Linked DNA regions of Homo sapiens. The protein of the gene in region 1 interacts with the protein of each later gene in a pairwise test. Each region holds a gene or a part of one and is shown in the gene's direction. Other genes may lie near its edges.

Evidence for each region.
Region 2: the proteins of KLHDC7B (region 1) and FNDC3B interact in binary tests that used the Homo sapiens proteins (3 or more experiments, as listed by UniProt).
Region 3: the proteins of KLHDC7B (region 1) and A1CF interact in binary tests that used the Homo sapiens proteins (3 or more experiments, as listed by UniProt).

What each region holds. Positions count from the first base shown.
Region 1 is NC_000022.11:50,541,624-50,548,919, forward strand, and holds the start of KLHDC7B (kelch domain-containing protein 7B), read left to right. Parts: upstream 1-4,275; 5' UTR 4,276-4,620; coding exon 4,621-7,296.
Region 2 is NC_000003.12:172,343,578-172,350,604, forward strand, and holds part of FNDC3B (fibronectin type III domain-containing protein 3B), read left to right. Parts: intron 1-508; coding exon 509-681; intron 682-2,749; coding exon 2,750-2,863; intron 2,864-3,634; coding exon 3,635-3,784; intron 3,785-7,027. UniProt on the Homo sapiens protein: May be a positive regulator of adipogenesis.
Region 3 is NC_000010.11:50,805,601-50,812,627, reverse strand, and holds part of A1CF (APOBEC1 complementation factor), read left to right. Parts: intron 1-1,451; coding exon 1,452-1,588; intron 1,589-2,585; coding exon 2,586-2,734; intron 2,735-5,747; coding exon 5,748-5,899; 3' UTR 5,900-7,027. UniProt on the Homo sapiens protein: Essential component of the apolipoprotein B mRNA editing enzyme complex which is responsible for the postranscriptional editing of a CAA codon for Gln to a UAA codon for stop in APOB mRNA.

The sequences.
Region 1 (7,296 bases):
TAAACTAAAATGGAGACCGGGCCTGAAGAATCCCTAAGCAGACAAAACAAGTTAGGTCTCGTAAGTGACTTCAGCCTTGCTTAAATTGAAAACATAAGTGAAACTTAACTTGAGCCATTATTTTGTTTGTTTGTTTTTCAGTAGAGACAAGGTCTTGCTATGTTGCCCAGGCTGGTCTCAAAGACTAGTCATCTGCCCTGCCTCGGCCTCACACCCAAAGTGCTGGGATTACAGGCATGAGTCATTTCTTTTTTTTCTTTTTTGAGACAGAGTCTTCTCTGTTGCCCAGGCTGGAGTGCAATGGCGCAATCTTGGCTCACTGCAACTTCTGCCTACCGGGTTCAAGCAATTCTCCCACCTCACCCTCCCGAGTAGCTGGGATTACAGGCACTTGCCATCATGCCCAGCTAATTTTTGTATTTTTGTAAAGATGGGGTTTCACTATGTTGACCAGGCTGGTCTTGAACTCCTGACCTCAGGTGATCTGCCCACCTCAGCCTCCCACCCAAAGTGCTGGGATTATAGGCGTGAGCCACCATGCCTGGCTGAGTTGTTTCTGATAAATGCTTCCATTAGACAGAGATAAATTTTAATCTACCCAATCATAAGTAACCAACTATCATGATTATATAACTACTGACTTTCCAACAGGATAAGCCAAAGAAAGCAACTCTATAACTGTAACCAATCAAATAATTTCTTTATTGTGCTTCTACATTTTCCCAATAAAAACTTGCACTTGATGTTTTGTCTCTGGAATACTAACGCTCTTTCAGTCAGGTGTTCCCCAATTCATAAATTGCTTTTCACTCAAATAAACCCTTTAAAATTTTGTTGTGAGTCAGATGTTTCTTTAACGCATGGTTGCAAAACGTGCTGTTAGTAAGGAACATGACTGAGATCTACATTCAGGTCCTAGTGCAGTTTCTTTTGCTGTCACCAGGGCCATCTTGCTGGCTTGCCACAGGTTATGTGATAATGACTGGGCATCATTCATGGGAAACTGCACTGCGTAAGCAGGCCTGGCTAGGCCCACAGTAGGCCCCGGGCACATTTTCAGCTGCGAAGCGGAGGACTAGCAACCGGTGAGGTAGAAGGAGAACCAAGAGATGGTGGGAGAATGGGAACTGAGCTGAGAGAGCTTCCGGAAGGTTGCGGTGGCCTAGGGCGATCCACGTCATTGAGAAACGGCGTTAGGCTGATTTCACGGGGCAGATGACATGGAAGTGCTGCTGAGGAAGACGCTGAGCTCCGAGGTGAAAAGGGATGAGGACGCCTAAGAAGACACGAGCGCAATACCTAATACAATTTCCTGAAATTGTTTCATGTCACACGTTAAAATAATATGAAACACGTTAAATAATAAAATGGTATGAAGGTTTTGTCTGAACTACAGTGATTTGTCTTCAGATTTTGAAATATAACAGACTTTATTTTATTTATTTTATTTTTTGAGACAGAGTCTCGCTCTGTCGCCCAGGCTGGAGTGCAGTGGCGCGATCTCGGCTCACTGAAACCTCCGCCTCCCGCGTTCACGCCATTCTCCTGCCTCAGCCTCCCGAGTAGCTGGGACTACAGGTGCCCGCCACCGCGCCCGGCTAATTTTTTTGTATTCTTAGTAGAGATGGGGTTTCACCGTGTTAGCCAGGATGGTCTCGATCTCCTGACCTCGTGATCCGCCCGTCTCGGCCTCCCACAGTGCTGGGATTACAGGCTTGAGCCACCGCGCCCGGCCCTGAAATTGTTTAATGTCACACGTTAAAATAATATGAAACACGTTAAAATAATAAAATGATATGAACGTTTTATTTTATCTGCACTACAGTGATTTGTCTTCAGATTTTGAAATATAAAAGAGTTTATTTATTTTATTTTTTAAGACAGAGTCTCGCTCTGTCGCCCAGGCTGGAGTGTGGCGGTGCGATCTCGGCTCACTGAAACCTCCGCCTCCCGGGTTCAAGCGATTCTCCTGCCTCAGCCTTCTGAGTGGCTAGTATTACAGGTGTCCGGCACCATGCCCCACTAATTTTTTTTTTTTTTTAAAGTAGAGCAGGGGTTTCACCATGTTGGCCAGGCTGGTCTTGAACGCCTGACCTCAGGTGATCTGCCTGCCTCGGCCTCCCAAAGTGCTGAGATTACAGGTGTGAGCCACCACGCCCGGCCAAAAGCCTTTATTTTTTGCCTTTTCTGCTTTTAACCATCCTCCTTTTTGGGGGGTTGGGGGGACCTAGTTATTAACAGAAAAAAACCCTTTGCTGGTGTCTTTTTTTCTTTTTTTTGAGATGGAGTCTGGCTCTGTCACCCAGGCTGGAGTGCAGTGGCGCGATCTCGGCTCACTGCAACTCCCCGGGTTCAAGCGATTCTCCTGCCTCAGCCTCTGGAGTAGCTGGGATTACAGGCGCCCGCCACCACGCCCGGCTAATTTTTCTATTTTCGGTAAAGACAGGGTTTCTCCCTGTCGGCCAGGCTGGTCTCGAACTGCTGACCTCAGGCGATCCAACACCTCGGCCTCCCACCTCGAGGCGATCCGACACCTCGGCCCAGGTCGCACTTTTTTGCCCGTTTTGATCCCATCCTCCAACTGCGGCCACAGCCGGAAATGTAGAGAAATTCGCGCTCCTGGGGCCGGCGGGGCTGGCGCTGGCTCACCCGCTCCCCGGGCCCTCCCAGTCGCCAGGTTTGCGCTCGGAGCCCAGGGGCTGCGGGTTCACAGTTCGCCCGCGAGTCGCTGTCAACCCTCCAGGCGCGGCCCGGGGGCGCTCGCGCGCGCTGCCAACGGAGCCATCCCTGACGCGTTCTCAGTCTACGGCAGAAAACGCCAGTCGGCGCCGGACCGTGACTCCAGGGTTTCGCGGAAATAAATTTTAATCCAGTTTTGAAGCCACCACTTGGAGTTCCAGGGCAGTTGCACCCCGGGGGTGCGCTGCCGCCACCGCTTCCCGCCCCCTACTCAGTCTCTAATATTTATGGGTGTCATCTCCATCCTCTGAAGGTTTCTGGACCCCAAACTTAACCAAGAGGCAGAGCCTGAGACTGGGACAGAGAATAAGGGCACGGTCTAGAAAGCCTTCCCTCAACTTGAGGTCCACCTTAAGGCATGGGGCCCACCCTCACCCTCTCCCTGTCATCTAATAGTCCCAGGGGGAGCTGGGAGGTGAGTTACCTGAGGCTCAGTAGGGTTCAGGCTGGGTGCCAGGGACACTCCTAGGCCATCTCCTTGCTGCTTGAGTAAGGGAGAAATCCCCAGGCCTGCTGTGTCCCAGAGGAAGGAAAAATACACACGGTACTTTCCAGGGAGCCCTGCCTTTGTCCCAGGGACTCCAGGCTCTTTTTCTTGTCTGAGCCTCACCTGGCACCTGGCCCGAGACACTCCTGAGATGGGATTAAGCAAGGAGCAGGTGGAGGAGCCCAGGCTTCTCCCTCAGGAAGCAAGTGCTCACATCCAACAGAAGTACCTACATGCCGGCCTGAGCCAGGGCTAGGAGGTACCAGCCAGGATGTGGTCTCGAGGGCGAGTCCTCAGCTCAGATAAGGGAAGGCTGAGGACTGAGATGAAGACACCCAGAGTCTGGCTATTAGAGCACCTGGGGCCAGAGGGGGGTGGTTTCTAAGGGATCCAGGTGCTGGCTGATGCGGTAACTGGAGTAGGGGGCAGGCTGGGCTCAGGGTTCTCCAGGGGCACAGTGAGAGTCTCATCTGGGCAGTCAAGACACTCTCGATGGGCGCAGGGGGTCCAGGAGATCCTAGAAGGTCTAGGTGGGCTGAAATAAGCCTGGCCATAAAGAGAGAAATATGTTTGGATTTTATTTATCCCATTAATTTTTTTTTTCTCTTGACTTGATAACCCTATCCCATGTCTGGTAAACCCAGAGTAAGGAGTCCAAAAGCTGCTGGAGGAGGAGCTATGGGAGCCTCAGTCTCCTCTCTATGCCCCCTCCCTGTGCCCCAGTACAAACCTCCACAGCACCCCTGCAATGATAATGCTCACTGCCAGGACCCGTGTCCAGGGTCTCCCTCTTCAGCCTGAGAGACCACCGTCAGGCACAGCCTGCACCCTCCCGTGCACGGCCCCCACCCCTCCCCTGCTGGCCCACAGTGGAATCAGCCTCTCCGGTTTCTGGTGATTTCATCAGGGCCACATCACATTGCTAGAGCTAGAGATAACATCTCCCTGTGGGTAACCCTTCCCTGCCAAGCCCCCTGAAGCTGGGCCCAGGCTGAGAGGAGGGACTGTGGGGTGTGGAATAAATTTAGGGGTGTGAGGGTCTACCAGGCAGAAGCAGGTTGGCTGTGATGACAGCACAGAGCTCAGGAACGCTGCCTGAGGACCCTGGGGCCTACGAGGAGGAGAAGAGGGCAGGAGCTGGTGGGGTGCTTGCAGAGACCCTGGGCTCCTATCCTGCCATAAGCCTCGCTGTCTCCTGATATCTGCAGCCAGGCCCTACTGACACCCCCAGGCCTGAGTGCAAGCAGAGACCCCACCATTCCCAGGCCCTGGAGGACTGGTCCACCTTAACTGGGCAGCCCTTGGGGCAGGCGCTGGCCGGTGCCTCAGCCCAGGCCTCTGTGCTCTGCATGCACTGCCAGCCTGCCATCAGGCCTCTATTGCAGCCCTGAACCATGATCCAGGGCACCTTGGAGCCAGATGGTCCCCTCTGGGGCTGGGACTGGGACAGTGACAATGACTGGGATAGTGCTGTGCTGGCCCTCCTGGCGCTGGCTGTGGTGGCTGCCACAGCGCTGGCCTTACACTGGTTTGGCTCCGGGCACGATCAAGAGGCGGCAGAACCGGTGTCCACAGCCCTCGGGGCTCAACCTCATCAGGCAGGAGGAGCTGAGCTGGCCCTGCAACCGAAGTCTAAGGTCAGTGATGGCAGCGAGGGGCAGAGCCCAGGGCAGGGGAAACCAGAGCCCCCAGGACGCGGCCAGCAGAGCCCTGTCCCTGCTGCAGCGCCGGGCGGGGGCCTGGCCGCCATGGCCCGGCTTCCACTCAAGACGGCTGTCGAGGAGGCCCGCAGAGAGGCATTAGGACAGCAACGGGGCAGTGCCACCCCCGCGGCCCCCCGAGCGGAAGGAAAGGAGCCTCCCAGGCCAGGCACTGCCCTCCTGGGCAGGAGCGAAGCAGGGGGGATGTCCGCCCCCCTCCTGATCCACTTCACTCCTCGGAGCCCTGGCAGCGAAGCGGAGGCGGAGACAGGTGGTGTCAGGGCGTCCTCTCGCCAGGCCGCAGGCCCCGCGGGGCAACAGGACACTGGCCCCTGGCAGGCGGGCGCGGGGCCCTCGGGCTCGATGGGGAGAGGCCGGGGCCGGCGGCGGCGGATGGACGCTGGCTCGGGAGACAGAGCCCGCCGCCCCCGGAAACTGGACCCGCTCCGCCTGGGCGCCGCGGGGAGCGTGTGGGACGCGGTGGACGGGGCCGCCGCCCTGGACGCCCACGCGCGCGGCCTCCCCACAGGACCCCCACTCGCCCAGGAGCCCGCACTCCCGGCGCTGCCCGCTCCCCGCGCCCTGCAGCCTGGGTCTCAGACGGAAGGCTCTGGGGCCAAGGGTGGCTGGAGCAGGGAGGCCTCGGGGGTCCCTGCCCCCGGAGGAGGCTGGCCCTGGGTCAGCAGGGAGGTCCCGGGCACCCGGAGCTTTGGCCCAGCCCCAGACTCCACGCGCCCCTGGCTAGAGAGTCCGCCTCAAGGTCGCCCACTCTCGTCCCAAGGGCCGGGTGCCACAGGGGCCTACGATGCCGGCGAGGCCGGGGCTGACAGCTCCCGAGATAACAGTCCTGCCGCTGACCTGGGGCCCACCCGGCCCCCGGAGCAAGCAAAGCCGGCTGCAGCCGGCCACAGCCGCGCGCCCTCCCGGAGCCGTGAGCCTCGCCCGCGCTCCGCCTCCCCGCCCGCAGCTCCCGGCCCGGGGTTCCCACCTGAAGCCCTGACTCTCCCCTCTCCTTCAGACTTTTTGCCCCTGGAGGTTACCCAGGATCCTTCCGTGGGCGAAAATCTCAGAGCGGCGCCAGCCCCAAGTTCAGCCTCAGCCCAAGTCTTAACTTCAGCTCCAGCCTCAGTCCTAGCCCCAGCCCTGGCTTCATCCCCCAGCTCAGCACCAACCTCAGCCACCACCTCAACCTCATCCCCCACCTCAGCCCCAGCCCCAGCTCCAACCTCAGCTCCAACTTCAACCCCAGCCCCAGCCCCAAGTCCAGCTGCAGCCGCAACTCCAGCCCCAGCCCCAGTCCCAGTCCCAACCCTCACACCCCCATCCCCAGCCCTAACCCCAGTCCCAACCCCAGCCCTAAGCCCAGCTCCAACTCCAGCCCTAACCCCAGCCGCATCCCCAGCCCTAACCCCAGTCCCAACCCCAGCCCTAAGCCCAGCTCCAACTCCAGCCCCAACCCCAGCCGCATCCCCTGCCCCAGCCCCCACCTCAGCCCCAACCCCAACCCCAGCCGCATCCCCTGCCCCAGCTGACGGGTCAAAGCCTCAGGAGAGTGTGGCTCTCCCCAGGCGCTACCAGGAGGGGCAGGTCTCAGCCAGCTGGGGAAACCTTATTGCCATGGTTCTTAGAAGCCACCCCTTCCCCAGGCAAGACAGGCCCCAAGGGAGTGTCCCGAGGGCGGTTCCCGGGAGCCCCGTGGGTCCCAGCACTTCCACACACTCTGAGGACAGACACGGCCCCTCTTCTTCAGTGGGGACAGTCATAGGGACAGGTACAGGGGGCCTGGTTGAGGCTGGAGGTCAGCCACAGCCAAGAAGCTCCGAGACCAACGGATCGCCCAGCCCAGACCCTCCCCCAGGCCTAAGAGGAGAGGGAACCAGGGAGAAAAGTCTAGACCCGCTGCCCCAAGCCGCGATGCCCAGGGGCCCCGCACAGCCCCCCGCGCAGAGGCCGCCTGGCCCCGCGGCCTCCTCCTCTGCGAGGCGCTCACAGCCGGTACCCCAGCTACGGAAACGCAGCAGGTGCGAAATCGCCCCGAGCTCGGAGCAGGAGGTCAGGCCGGCCGCCTCGGGGGACCCTCAAGGGGAGGCGCCGGGGGAGGGGGGCAGCCCTGCCGGCCGCAGCGGGGCGCTCACGGAAAAGCAGGAGGAGGCCCGGAAGCTCATGGTGTTTCTGCAGAGGCCCGGGGGTTGGGGGGTGGTGGAGGGGCCCCGGAAGCCCAGCTCCCGGGCCCTGGAGCCCGCCACGGCGGCAGCCCTGCGGCGGCGGCTGGACCTGGGCAGTTGCCTGGACGTGCTGGCCTTTGCCCAGCAGCACGGAGAGCCCGGCCTGGCGCAGGAGACCTACGCGCTGATGAGCGACAACCTGCTG
Region 2 (7,027 bases), on another chromosome or scaffold:
TTGATTTAAGCTGTATTAGCGTTTCCTGTTGTGTCCAGCAGTTTACAACATGTATAATTACAAGTACAAATGTACAGAACTCTCTAGCAGACTATTTTTTCCTACCACTTATGTCTAAAGTATAATAAATTGTGCCAATTTGGGGTCCTGTATTTTGATTTAGCATGACCTTTGGTTTCCAATTAAAGAGATTTTTCTTCCCTCTTTTTCTTCCATTTACCTAGCATTAGAATATGAAGAAATATATCTAATGTTCCTATAATTTTGGGATTATTTTATCAATGTAATTAAATAAACTTCAGTGGACCCGCTTTGGAGAGTATGGATAACATCATTCAGAAACTTTTATTTTTATATCTCTTTTTTGGTGGGCATGGATTCTTTTGTAAGGGAGATACTGAGGCCGGCCACCTATGTGATATTTTGCTCAACTTGTGTGAAATCTGGTGCACTTTGGTCAACTGGAAGCACAAAGTGTTCTAAGATGAAAAAAATTCTTCATTCCCAGATGTTCCTGCATCGGAAAGTGGCTGTGAGGTCTCAGAGTACAGCGTGGAGATGACGGAGCCCGAAGACGTAGCCTCGGAAGTGTACCATGGCCCAGAGCTGGAGTGCACCGTCGGCAACCTGCTTCCTGGAACCGTGTATCGCTTCCGGGTGAGGGCTCTGAATGATGGAGGGGTGAGTATAAGCCCATACACCATAACCAGAATCAGAATGCATAATCAGAACCCAAAGTGCTAGCACTTCTGTCTCTAGCCTCCTGAAATTTTTGACAGTCTTGATGCAACCTTGACAACCATTAATGCAGTGTCTGTAAATCTTAATTCTGAGTTGATATTGTTGTGATTTCATATAGACCCAGCATTAGAAGTTTTCTGTTTCTTTTGTCCTCATATCATTCTATGAAGACAGCACTCAAGGTTAATAAGGATATCACCCTGTAGATATTTTCGACAGTTTTTGGAAAATTTCCTATTCTATTGACTTTATCAGTTCAGGGAAATTAGGATTAGATAATAGTTCTAATAAAAGTTTTATACTGTCTTGTCTAAATGAACCAGCAACATCTTAGGTCAGTTTTTACAACTAGAGAAGGGTAGTGGCCAGGGACACCAGCTTGTTTTTGTTTTGTTTCACGTGAAAACTACAGGACTCTCTCCTTCTATTGCTCCATTTGGAGTTGTCAAGTTGAGCTATCAAAAATTGAGAATATATATGTCTATGTTATATCCATAAAGGTTGTTGTCCTTTTTTTCTTTGAAATTGCCAAATGATGTGGATTTAGGGGGAGATGAATAATGAGCAGTGGGAGTCCCAGTAACTGTGAGGCTTTTGGGTGGGCTCAGAGATTGATGAAGCATAAAAGGGCAGAAGCGTGTGGGTAAAGCCAGCTAAATGCCCCGTCCAAAGTGCCAGTGGTTTGTGTAGATGGGCTCCATGCAAATAAATAGAATTAATTAATTGATGATTTTTTAAAAAAATAAGACAGCCCAACTTGCAGTGACTTTTTGTTTTAAGTGAAAGCAAGTTTATTAAGAAAGTAAAGGAATAAAAGAAGGGCTATTCCTTAGGCAGAGTGCCCAAAACTGGATTTCTCCTAATTCTCCAATAGAAAAGAATTTCAGACACAACAATGATACTTAAGTGAAAACAAAAAAGTCTGAACATTAACGCCTATGTACCTGAACTTATAATCATGTAAGCGAAAAGAAGATGGATAGTGATGAGCACACTGTTGTGTCTACCCCATTCTCTCATCAACTTTTCAGTTACTATCTGCCACAACAAAGATAAATGTGCAACTGGGCTGGTGTGAGCTGTACTTTTCTCAGCCCTTTCACTGATTTATCCTATAAAGAAACTATCTTCAGCTTGGGTTTATTCCTGTTGTATTAGAAATTAACCATATATATCGCTGTAGTCACCTTCTGAGGTCCATTTCAGAGAGCTTCCCCAACTCCCCAGCATCTTTGCATGTTATGTTGAGAGGTGGTTTTTTGTTTCCCCCCTCCCCGCCGTCTTTTTTCTCTCATTTTGACAAGGACAGTCATATATTTTGTTAGCCTGGCAAGTTTTTACTCTGCTCCAAACCTTTGAAGTATCAAATATGCCACCATTAAAATGGGTGGTTCAGGTGGCTGTGACTCTCTCAAAGTGTGGTAAGTCTCTAGCAATTCCTGGCTCTGAGCAGTGTGGTCACTGATGGTAACATCAGGATTGCCGTGGATACCCTTGAATAGGTGAGGTGATGGGAACACACTGAGAAAACATTACAGAAGCATTTATTTTCAAAATGGAAAATACCGGTAACTAGAAGAAATACCTAGAATTTGATCACCAACAATTCCAAGTATATTTTTATTCATTAAAAATTAAACTGCAGTGGGCATCTGACTTAGTTTTCTTGGATGTCCTCTGAGAAATATGAAAGCAGATTGCCCTGTTTTGTCAAAAATCAGCATATTTTTATTTCATGTCCCAAGAAAGGGAAAATATTTTGTCAACCAACTAATTATTTTACAATTAAAAAAATGACAGACATCTACTACTCAGGGACTGTATATAGGAGAAAAACTTACACACATTGAATTGAAAGTGAAAATCATTGGGTAATATTTGTTAATTAGTTGTGTTGATGATGATGTTAGCCTAGCTTTTATTTGGTTATAAGCTTTTGTATGCACACACATTCACAAACACATACACGCATATATACATACGTGTGTGTGCGTGTGTTTTCTTTCAGTATGGTCCCTATTCTGATGTCTCAGAAATTACCACTGCTGCAGGGCCTCCTGGACAATGCAAAGCACCTTGTATTTCTTGTACACCTGATGGATGTGTCTTAGTGGGTTGGGAGGTAAGTCAGGCATATTCTGCATCAACTTCTGTTTCTTCTACTTTACTCCCAAATACAAATACCAATTATAAGGAAGCTGCAAATCCAAAATGCACATATAGATGATTTTTTTTTTTTTTTTGCTCTGTGTACTATAGTAATCACCCTTGGCACTTGCCACTTGCTTATATTATTTAGGGTTGTGGAAGTTTTACTGTAGTCAAAACTGAGAGGAAATGGTTTCTCATGCCTTTCTTTTTGTAAAAAATTTTATTTTATTTTACTTATTTTATTTTTTTGTGTGACAGAGTTTCAATCTTGTCACCCAGGCTGGAGGGCAGTGGCACAATCTCGGCTCACTGCAACCTCTGCCTCCCTGGTTCAAGTGATTCTCCTGCCTCAGCCTCCTGAGTAGCTGGGATTACAGGTGCCCACCACCATGCCTGGCTAGTTTTTGTACTTTTAGTAGAGATAGGGTTTCACTGTGTTGGCCAGGCTGGTCTCGAACTCCTTATCTTAGGCAATCCACCCACCTCAGCCTCCCAAAGTGCTGGGATTACAGGCATGAGCCGCCGCACCTGGCCCTATTTTATTTTTAAATTTCTAAATCTCAAAAAAAATTTTGTGGGTACATAGTAGGTATATATATTTGTGATCGTGCCTTTCTTTTATATGTATTTGAAATATTCTGGGGCATGTTGCTCTCTTTCCCATTTTAGTTAATTGAATACAAGCACAGTAGGATTCTCTTCTCAGTGGCATTATTAACTACTTCCATTTCTGCCTTTCCAGAGTCCTGATAGTTCTGGTGCTGACATCTCAGAGTACAGGTTGGAATGGGGAGAAGATGAAGAATCCTTAGAACTCATTTATCATGGGACAGACACCCGTTTTGAAATAAGAGACCTGTTGCCTGCTGCACAGTATTGCTGTAGACTACAGGTAGGTTGACATTATTCAGATGTTACTCACAAGGACTGCTGTCCCATGAAAGGCACTTTGGGAAACCCACTCAAAGGCTTGTGGTGGAGGCTGTCAGGAGGGATGATATGGAAAAAAAGAGTCCATTTAAATAAAAATATATTTGGTTGTTTTGGTGTTTTGCAGTTAATTTCCACTTCTCTAGGAAATTCTGAAACTTAAGAACAAAATAAGATTCTTCTCCATTCTGCTTCTCACCACCCTTGTATCTTGTCTGTTCATCAGTTTGCTGAATAAATGACCCAAGTCCAAGGGAAAGATGACACAGCTCCTTAGGGAAGGAGCCTTCTGTCTCATTCCCCTGAGATGTACATTTCAGTGGGAAAGACTCTTAGAACTGGTAAAAGACAGAAAATTATTTTACGAGCTGTTAAATGGAGCCAAAAATAATCTGGACTAGTCTGCATTAGATTACAGGACCCCACCTCCCACCTCCCAGTGACGGTTATCAAGGCTGGTTATCTATAAGCTTCCACTTGGGAGTCCAGATAGAATAACATCAAGAAAAATTGGTTCATAGCCTAACCCCTCAGAGTGACAATAACCATGGGTTTACTTTTATTTTACTCTCTTGGCTATATTATTATTTTTTCTGTGTAAAGCCTTAGTCTCTTGAGAAAATAGAGTTCTTTGTCCTCCTCTTTCCATTTGTTCAGTAACATTTCTTGAGCATTATAGTACTTTGTACCAGGATCAAAGGAAGATCAGGAAGAGAGATACAAAGATTAATCAGATGTGGTTGTTGACCTTGAAGAGCTCTGTCTTCATACACATTTAGATTTGAATAGATAAAGAAGCAAAGATGCCAAAGTCAAGTTCCCACCTGATTTAAGTCATGGATCAAATTCGTTATTATAAGTACACCCAATGTCTCTGGTCTCTTTGGAGAAAATATTCGCTTCATAACTTAATTTTTCAGATCAACTGAAGCATTTCTGTTAAATTCAGAAGTCTGCTGTATTTGAAACATTTCTGATTAAACTCTTTTGTTATACACCTTTCTTGCTTCTCGAATGAAGCACCTGGGACATAATTAACCTTTTGACAATGAGTCAGTGTCACAGCAAATTGTCTGATATTTATAATAGTGATGCTGAGTCACTGGGGAAAGGTTAAATTATGTGCCACACTCTTGTTTTTCTACCAAGGCAGGATATAAATAAAGAGCTGTCTGCCACCCCAGTAAAGAGCTTCACTCCATTATGGTTTTTGAGTTTTGGTGTTTCTTTAAAATGTTATTATATCTCCTTCTCTTTCAGAGTCTATGTTGTCTTAGCATTGACTTCCCAAAGCTGCATTATAAAAGATACATTAATAAGAATAGTACCTGCATAATCTTGCCTCGTTGTATTAACAGGAGTAGAAATATATTTTCAAAGGTCTGTGCTTATTTATAATAAAATGAGTCAGATCTTATGAAGGGAGTACTACTTTTAAGATTACCATTGCCACACTAAAGGACTATTGCCAGGAAGGGGGTCTGTTCAAACTATACCAATTTATTGTTATTTGTGGACCAAATATGAATTATTTTCATTCAACATGATTACAAAGTCAAGTTAAACCCCAATATTTTTTGAATATATGGCACTTAAGAATTTAAATATTGGCCGGGCATGGGGGCTCACACTTGTAATCCCAGCACTGTAGGAGGCTGAGGCCGGCTGATCTCTTGAGCCAGGAGATAGAGACTAGCCTGGACAACATAACAAAACCCCTCCTCTACAAAAAAAAAAAATACAAAAATTAGCCAGGCATCTGTAGTCCCAGCTGCTCAGGAGCCTGAGGCAGGAGGATCACTTGAGCCAGGTCAAGGCTGTAGTGACCTGTGACTGCACCACTGTAGGCCAGCGTGGGCGACAGAGTGAGAGCCTGTCTCAAAAAAATAAAAATTTATTATAATACCTGTACTGTGTTTTATAGAAATGTGGTGGAACATTTCTTGTTTTGCTCAGGAATTTTTGAATTTTTGTATTTTCAGGACTGTTTTAATTAAGTACCAACGTAATTCCATTCATAGGGCATGTTGTATATTATAGGCATACTATTATTTACAAAAAGTTGATTTTGAATTAAATTTCATTTGAAAACTGTTAATAAAAAGTGGTGTAAATCAAGAAATGTTTTCCATAGAGCCAAGCTAGTTAAAAAGAAAGTAGGATCCTGCAGTAGAAAAAGAACATTGGAAGAATTGGTAAGATTCTGATTAGGTCTGTATGTTAATAGTATAGTATCAGTGATAATGTTTTTCTTTTCTTTTTTTTCTTTTTTTTGAGATGGAGTCACGCTCTGTCACCCAGGCTGGAGTGCAGTGGCGCGATCTTGGCTCACTGCAACCTCCGCTTCACAGGTTCAAGCGATTCTCCTGTCTCAGCCTCCCGAGTAGCCGGGATTACAGGCGCCTGCCACCACGCCTGACTAATTTTTGTATTTTTAGTAGAGATGGGGTTTCACCAGGTTGGCCAGGCTGGTCTCGAACTCCCGACCTCAGATGATCCACCCGCCTCAGCCTCGCAAAGTGCTGGGATTCCAGGTGTGAGCCACCGTGCCCGGCCACCAGTGATAATTTCCTGGTTTTGATCATTATTCTATAGTTCTGTAACATGTTTCTCTTCGGAAAAGCAGAGTAGGAGATAGACAGAAATTTCTCTGTACTATTTTTGCAACTTTTCTGTAAGTATAAAAGTAGTACACAATAAAAAGGTGTTTGAAAAAATAGAGAAAATACTATTTTGTTCATAATTTTCCCAGTGGGAAGGAAGAAAGTGTAGCTCCTACTGTTGGCCTGATACTCTGCCAGCATTTTACATATTAACCGATTTAATCTTTACTGTAATTCTATGAATTAGGCATTACTGTCCCCATTTTACAGCTGAGGAAACAAGCTCAGAGAAATTAACTAACCTAAGATCACACAGTTGTTAAATGATGGAATCAAGGTTTGAACTAAGCTTCAACTCTTAAAAGCCATGTTCTTGTCCTTCTGTGATATGGTGATACAAAGCCCTAGTTGATAGAAACATTGGGCTCCATGATATCCTATTTTTCTGCCCCTGTGATACATTTATATCAGTACCAAAATCTCGAAATACATACTTATAAAATAATTTGTCATGTTAAAATTTTTCCAGAAAGAGAGTTGAGGTATTGAGGTATTGTAATGAAACAGAAGTGGGTATGACAAAATGTTGCAGTAGAGTTTCA
Region 3 (7,027 bases), on another chromosome or scaffold:
TAAAACCCAAAACAAAAAACCTGATTAAAGTACTGGAATACTTAGAAATATTTTAAGAAAATAAAAAATAATAGTCGCAAATTCTGTATAATAATAGTTCCGAGAGCTGCAATAGTATGAAAAGAGATCTCTTCATTTTACATTAAACTCAAGTTAGAAATTCATCATGTCTTTTATTAGTATGTGAGTAACAATCTCTATCAATTAATAAAAGTTCTTTAATTTGTGTCTGACCTTCTACAACTATGGCTTAGAAATGAAGACCATGCCACCACCAACCAACACAGATGGGGCCTAAACAATCCCAAAGTAGAGTTGTGAACTTCCAGCCAGAAGCAGAGAGACAAGCCCTTTCCTGCAAAGTCAGCAGTGAGAGCTGGTGTTCCTTCCGCCCAGGTTTGCTCACCTGGCATAAACAAGCAGGCATAATATCTACCAGCAAAAGCTCCTTTATTATTGCCCAAGAACTGTAGAGAATGCTCTGAGGATTACAAGAGATCCTACACAACAAGAGTATTAAAAAGAAAATATCAATAGAAAAAACAGTAACAATCTACAAATTAATAAACTGGAAAATATCATGCTATTGCAGCTGGGTTAGTTAGCATAAATGAGGTAAGAAACCTCAGAGACACATCCTGAGACATTGTTCTGTCTTACAGAGTTATTTTCTCAGGCTTATGCCCTGCTTTCCACAGTCTACTGAATCTGCTGACTAACGAGAGCATCAGGACCTCTGGACAACCAAAAATGGCTTCAGAATAAAGAAACTATGAATCTTTAGAAAATATTCAGTTTGGAGTAATTACAGAAGAAAAAACATGCAGGAGGATGCTAAAAAGCATATTGTCATTAAGCAAAAAAACAAACAAACAAACAAAAAAGGCAGAAATAGTGTCTTACCAAACAAATAAAAACATTGCAACTGTCAACACCCATCTAGGAACACTCGATAAATACCAAGCATTAAACTTTTTAATTCTATTTTTATGAAATTGTGAGATTAAAACCCTATGACAAATGTCACGAAATAAAAATATATTCTTAGGCTATCATCTCTAAACCATTATAAACACAGAGATTGAGAGTAATAATGAGTAAATCTATACAAATCTATACACACAGTGTTGGAGCAACAATTTTTACAAAAACAAATATTCCAAACAAATCATAAAATTAAGCTTTTGGTAAAAAGTTACAGCTAATAGACTAAACTAAAAACATATTACAGTAAATGGTGTGAAAGTGATTTTATGAACTAATAGACCTAACATTTTAAATGGAGTTCAAATTGAGTTCATCTTAAATTTTATGAGTCATTAAATCATGTGGCATTTTATGTCTTCAGATACTAGCTTGAACTCTGAAAATTAGAGTTTAAAAACCTGAAAACTTGGGAAATAATGTGAATGTGTCATTTGAGGGGGAAATAACTTTTTTTATTCTTGTAGATATTAGAAGAGATTTGTCAGAAAAATAACTGGGGACAGCCAGTGTACCAGCTGCACTCTGCTATTGGACAAGACCAAAGACAGCTATTCTTGTACAAAATAACTATTCCTGCTCTAGCCAGCCAGAATCCTGCAATGTGCGTAACTTCTCCAAATTCCTTACCATTTTAGAGCAGGATACACTTATAAATTAAATGCATTTAGTCACCATCTAAACAAGATACTGAGGTCTACTACCTACTCATTTGTCATTCAATGCAAATATTGAGATGTGTAGTTGGGATGTGCCAGCCATGAAACCAGCATATAAAGGCCCCCAAATTTCATATACACAATGAAGGTTGTGTAGTATCACCAGCCAGTGGATAACAGTCAGTAGTGTAAAATGTAATAGAAATAAAAACTATAGCCCATTCTTGGCTGGATCACTTGAGGTCGGGAGTTTGAGACCAACCTGGCCAACATGGTGAAACCCCGTCTCTACTAAAAATACAAAAATTAGCCGGATGTAGTAGCCGGTACAGGCAGGCGCCTGTAGTCATAGTTACTCAGCAGGCGCCTGTAGTCATAGTTACTCAGCAGGCTGAGGCAGGAGAATCACTTGAACCTGAGAGGTGGAGTTTGCTTAGATTGTACCACTGCACTCCAACCTGGGCAATAGAGTGAGACTCCATTTCAAACAAACAAAGCTATAGCCCATTCTTTCATCTGTGCAGTGTTTAGGTTGAAGCATATGAAACTACCATTTTATACATAATAAGACAATGGCCCATCATTTAATTTTGGACCAAAGATATGACCTCTCTGTTAGTGGATATCACCTCCTGAATTTTACCTTGAGCCTGCATTTCTATATATTTTAGGAACAATTTGTTTCACTTGTGCTTTAGAAAAGCCATGTAGTGAATTACTTGTATGTCCCAGGAATGTCATCAACCACTGATGTTCTAGATCAATTTGTAAATATTTCTACATGCAACCTATATTTAGAAGCTTTAATAGCAAACAGAATGAAAAACACCCACTCAAAATACCACCATCCAGTCATCTTACAAAGCTGATAGTGCCTTAAGTTTTCACCTGACTCAGTTGTACCAGTTTAAAAATGCCTACCCTGACTGACTTGCTTTCCAGCCACCCTTTCACACCTCCAAAGCTGAGTGCCTTTGTGGATGAAGCAAAGACGTATGCAGCCGAATACACCCTGCAGACCCTGGGCATCCCCACTGATGGAGGCGATGGCACCATGGCTACTGCTGCTGCTGCTGCTACTGCTTTCCCAGGTATGGGAAAATTGTGCCAGAAATGGCGCCCTGCAGAGAGTATTTGGGAAACCCTTTTTTGGTACCATTGAATCACAGAAATGTTTGTGTACCCTACTTACAGCAATCTGACTTGCACAACCTTGGGACCAAAAAGAGTTTCCCAAATGAGTGACTCATTAAAACACGAGGCAAGAAAATCAAGCTGGGCAGCAGAGTGGGTTCTGGTCTCGGCTCAGCTTTAAACTGCTGTGTGATCTTGAATGAGTCAGTCTCTCTGAGTCTGGTTTGTTTTGGTTTTTACTTTTAGTACGAGAGTTTGAAACTACCTATAGATATATGATGTTTATTGGAGATCTTACTGTGTGCTAGGCACTCACTTAAATGGTCAGGAAGCGTTATAATATCTTAGTAATACTCATGATACCACCAAGAGTTAGGTTCCATCAGAAAGTCTGGTATACAAATGAAGAGCCCATATACAGAAAGATTAAGTAATTTGGCCACTGGCAATTAGCTTTTCAGCAATCTTTTCTCCCTCTCCAGTCTTCAATCTACTTTTATTAATTTGATTTCAAAAAAGATTTTTTAAAGTCAAAAATTTTGTGAGAGTGAGAGACAGACAGAGATCCTTTCAATATGTGAATAATCAGGACTCAACTCAATTTATTTGTTCTATAATTTTGGTCTGGGGCATATGCTGATTGCTTAAAGCAAAGCCTATCCGTGGATCAACAATGCCTTCAGAGGTCACATTTTAAAAGATTTGTCCCCATTTGTTATGTACCCACAACAAATGGTAATAATTAAAACTGAATCCTTTAGAGATTGAAGGGGACCAGGCAAGAAAGTTGTTTAGGAAATTTTTTCTCAGCTGAAAATTTTTTATCCTTTTTTTTTTTAGTAAAAGATTATTTTTATTAAAGAAATCTGTCATTTTTTACTTCTCATTGTGTCAGCGTGTGCCACATAAGTCCAAATTAGAGCTCTAAGTAGACCTAGAAACATGATATTCTTATTGATTAATTAATTCATATATTGGCCATGCGTAGGTGTGAAAAATTTTATATTCCTCACACCCACTGCACCTGGGGCTCCTTCTCAGTAGTGTTTTTTGGTTTTGGGGTTTTTTTTCTCAAAAGTTTTGAATATATCCTCCATTCTGGCCAGTGGGGCTAACATTAATGATGTTTCACATCTGAAAGTGACCTCAATTCTGGCTTTGTTTCTCTGTAAGAACATGGAGATGCTCTGTGGTGAGTCCCTCGGAGGTTACCAAGGTAACAGCTGACATTGCAGAGGGCAAGGTCCTTCCTGGGCAGTGTGGGGCCAGCAGCCAGTGCTTGCTTTCCACATAACAGGGTGTTTACATGTCCATTTACTCAGGATGCCTGCCAGGGCTTCTCAGTTCCTAGAGAAAGTTGAGCCCCTGTCTTACAGAAAGCTGCACCCCAAAGACACCTAACAAATGTACTATTAAACTAATGAGCCACTGTCAGAATTTTAAAGTTTGCTTTCACATTGGAAAGGATTTGCTTTTACCCAAGAATGTTTTATCTTATTCTCACTTCCACTGGCTTCTGTGAGAAGTTAAAAATATTTAGGGCATGAGTGTTGTCTTGGGAATGCCTAAGAATCTGAGAGCCTCTCTTATAACTTTGCTGTGGAGTCAAGCAAAGAATAATAGGCTCCAAGGGAAGAATCAGTTTGAAACCCAAACACCCTGGCACTTAACAAATTGACCAAGTTGAAAAAGAAAATTCAAAATCCCTAAAGGTAAAATCTGTGCCACAAACACATGCATGCATGTGTGCACACACTCACACAGTTACATTACTCACTTAGTTTAGAAATACTGTTTCCAAAACCATGAAAGTAACTGTTAACACATGTCTCCTATCCTTGGAAAATGGACCAAACTTCACTAGTGCATTAATCAGCATTACTGACCAAAATGAATGCACCAAGAGTGGATTCAATTTTTGTTCAAAATAATCCAACCAGCTTCCTGCCACCACTTTCTGAGAAGCCACTAGAAAAAAATCAATGTGTCTGGGGTTGGGCAGGCTTCTACTGCACATAAACTAAATGGGGTTTAAAACAACAATGAAAAATAGGTGCCCATTTGTACTTAAGTATACTTCTCTCTTTTTCTTGCTATCTTTTACAATTTCTGGATAATCTCAGAAATACTCAGGTTTTAAACTAAAACAATACAGAGAAATAATGCTTTAGATAGTAGCTAATATGCTCTCTTCTTCAAAAGTGAATGCTCATCCACTAGACACAATGCTAACATGAAAGCGCATAGATTATTTTTTTAATTCTCAGATACTTTGGTTCTCTGAGGCGGAGAACCAGCATCAAGGCCTCTGAATACAACAAGCACAGGCTTGATGAGGGGCTTGGGAGGTAAGAAGGTGCTTTTGCCATTCATAGTTACATGTAAATATGGACAGGTTAGGCATTTGCTTTTAAGGTATTATGGAAAAGCACACTTAACCTTTACAGTATTTCTCCTACTGATCTCCCAGTCTTTACACATCTTCTTGGGTAAAGGCAAATGTTTTAAATGTTTCATTTAGGCAGGTGTGGGGTTACAGGAGAACCAGTCCCACAGATCCCCACCTCCCCACATACCATGCCCAGCCAGCCCCTCAGTCACCTTTTCTCATTTATAAATTTGGAGACCCTCAAAACGCTAAAAATCACAAGCTTTAATCAACTCAGTATCCTGTTAAGTTTCTCTTTCTTGGACCCTATCCCAAGCATCTTTAATTCTCTTAAGTATAAAGTGATTCTGACACAGGTGGTTGACCCCACTTTAGGGAACATTGTCCTAGGACTGTTTAAATATCATTGAAAATCACTGAGTCCACATATTGTGTCCTTAAGGACACTTTTTAAAACATATATATTAACTTTTAGCTTTAAGCAATATGTTAAATGTTCGTATTTCTAAAAGAAGACAAATAAGCCAAAAGGGAGCAAATGTGAATTCCTTTCATCAAGTTTTCTCTGCCTCTTCCTCCAGGATATGCTGTCCCTAATGCAACTGCACCCGTGTCTGCAGCCCAGCTCAAGCAAGCGGTAACCCTTGGACAAGACTTAGCAGCATATACAACCTATGAGGTCTACCCAACTTTTGCAGTGACTGCCCGAGGGGATGGATATGGCACCTTCTGAAGATGCTTTTTTAAATTTAAGAATAAGACACACAAAACTCTATTAAAAAAAAAAAAGAAATAAACCTCTAACTCGGTCCCCAATGATCATAAATAATATGTTTCCTAAAGAAATGCCTTTCCAGAGACTGTATAGCTTATACCAATTATAGAATCATGAAGTAAGAACGTTATTCTGAAATGAAATCAAATGTTAAAGAGCCTTTTGTTTAACAGAAAGCTGGAGAGCCACTGCCCCAAAAGTTGTTCTTCCAGTCTTCCTGAGTGTTTGGGGAGTATGTTTACAAATCCTGCCAGGGTGAAGAGAGATCTTGTAGCTGGCAAGATTTGGGAGGGATGGAGCAGACCTGGGCAGTCAGTAATAATCAAGGGAAGCCAAGTAAACTCCAGAGTCTTACCTCTGGCTCACAGCTGCTTTTGTGATACACAAAGTCACAAAGAGGAAAAGGGAAGGGAGGAGGTTGCTTTTCAAAATGCATTCACCATGGCTCACTGTGTGGGGCATGATTGCAGGCCTGAGCTCATGAAAGACTGTCCAAGATTTTGTGGTTTCAACCTCTCTTCAGCCTGAAAATTCCATCCAGTCGATTTGTCACAGATCAGGATCTTCCTGTCCCCTGCAGCCCATGGGGACTTCCTAGAAATAGATATGATATGTTGTAGATGTGGTTAAAACAAATCCAGGCCCCATTGTTTATTCAGCTCATTAGTCCACACCTATTTTTCCCTAGAACTCCTACCTTTTCCAATAATCATGCCAGCATGAAATGACCTTTTCTACTTTAAAATTTTTTGACTTGTTCATATTGCTTGATTTTCATCATCTCAGACTCATTTTTCTCCTACCTAATATCATAAAAAAGTAAATCAGATATACAGAATATCATTTATGATACTTCTTCCTTTCAGCAAATTGACTGAAAAGTCATTTTAAAGAGAGAAGTGCAGATTTGCTCTCATTTCTTTGATATTGTTGCAGTATCCACCCCACCATCTAGCAATCAGAGATGCTTATATTAACTTGGGATTAGCTTTGCATTATCTAACCCATTTATTTTAAATCTGCCAGGAAATCCTCTAACTTTCCTTCCTTTTTGTTTCAGTAAGTATCAGGCAGCTTCACCATACC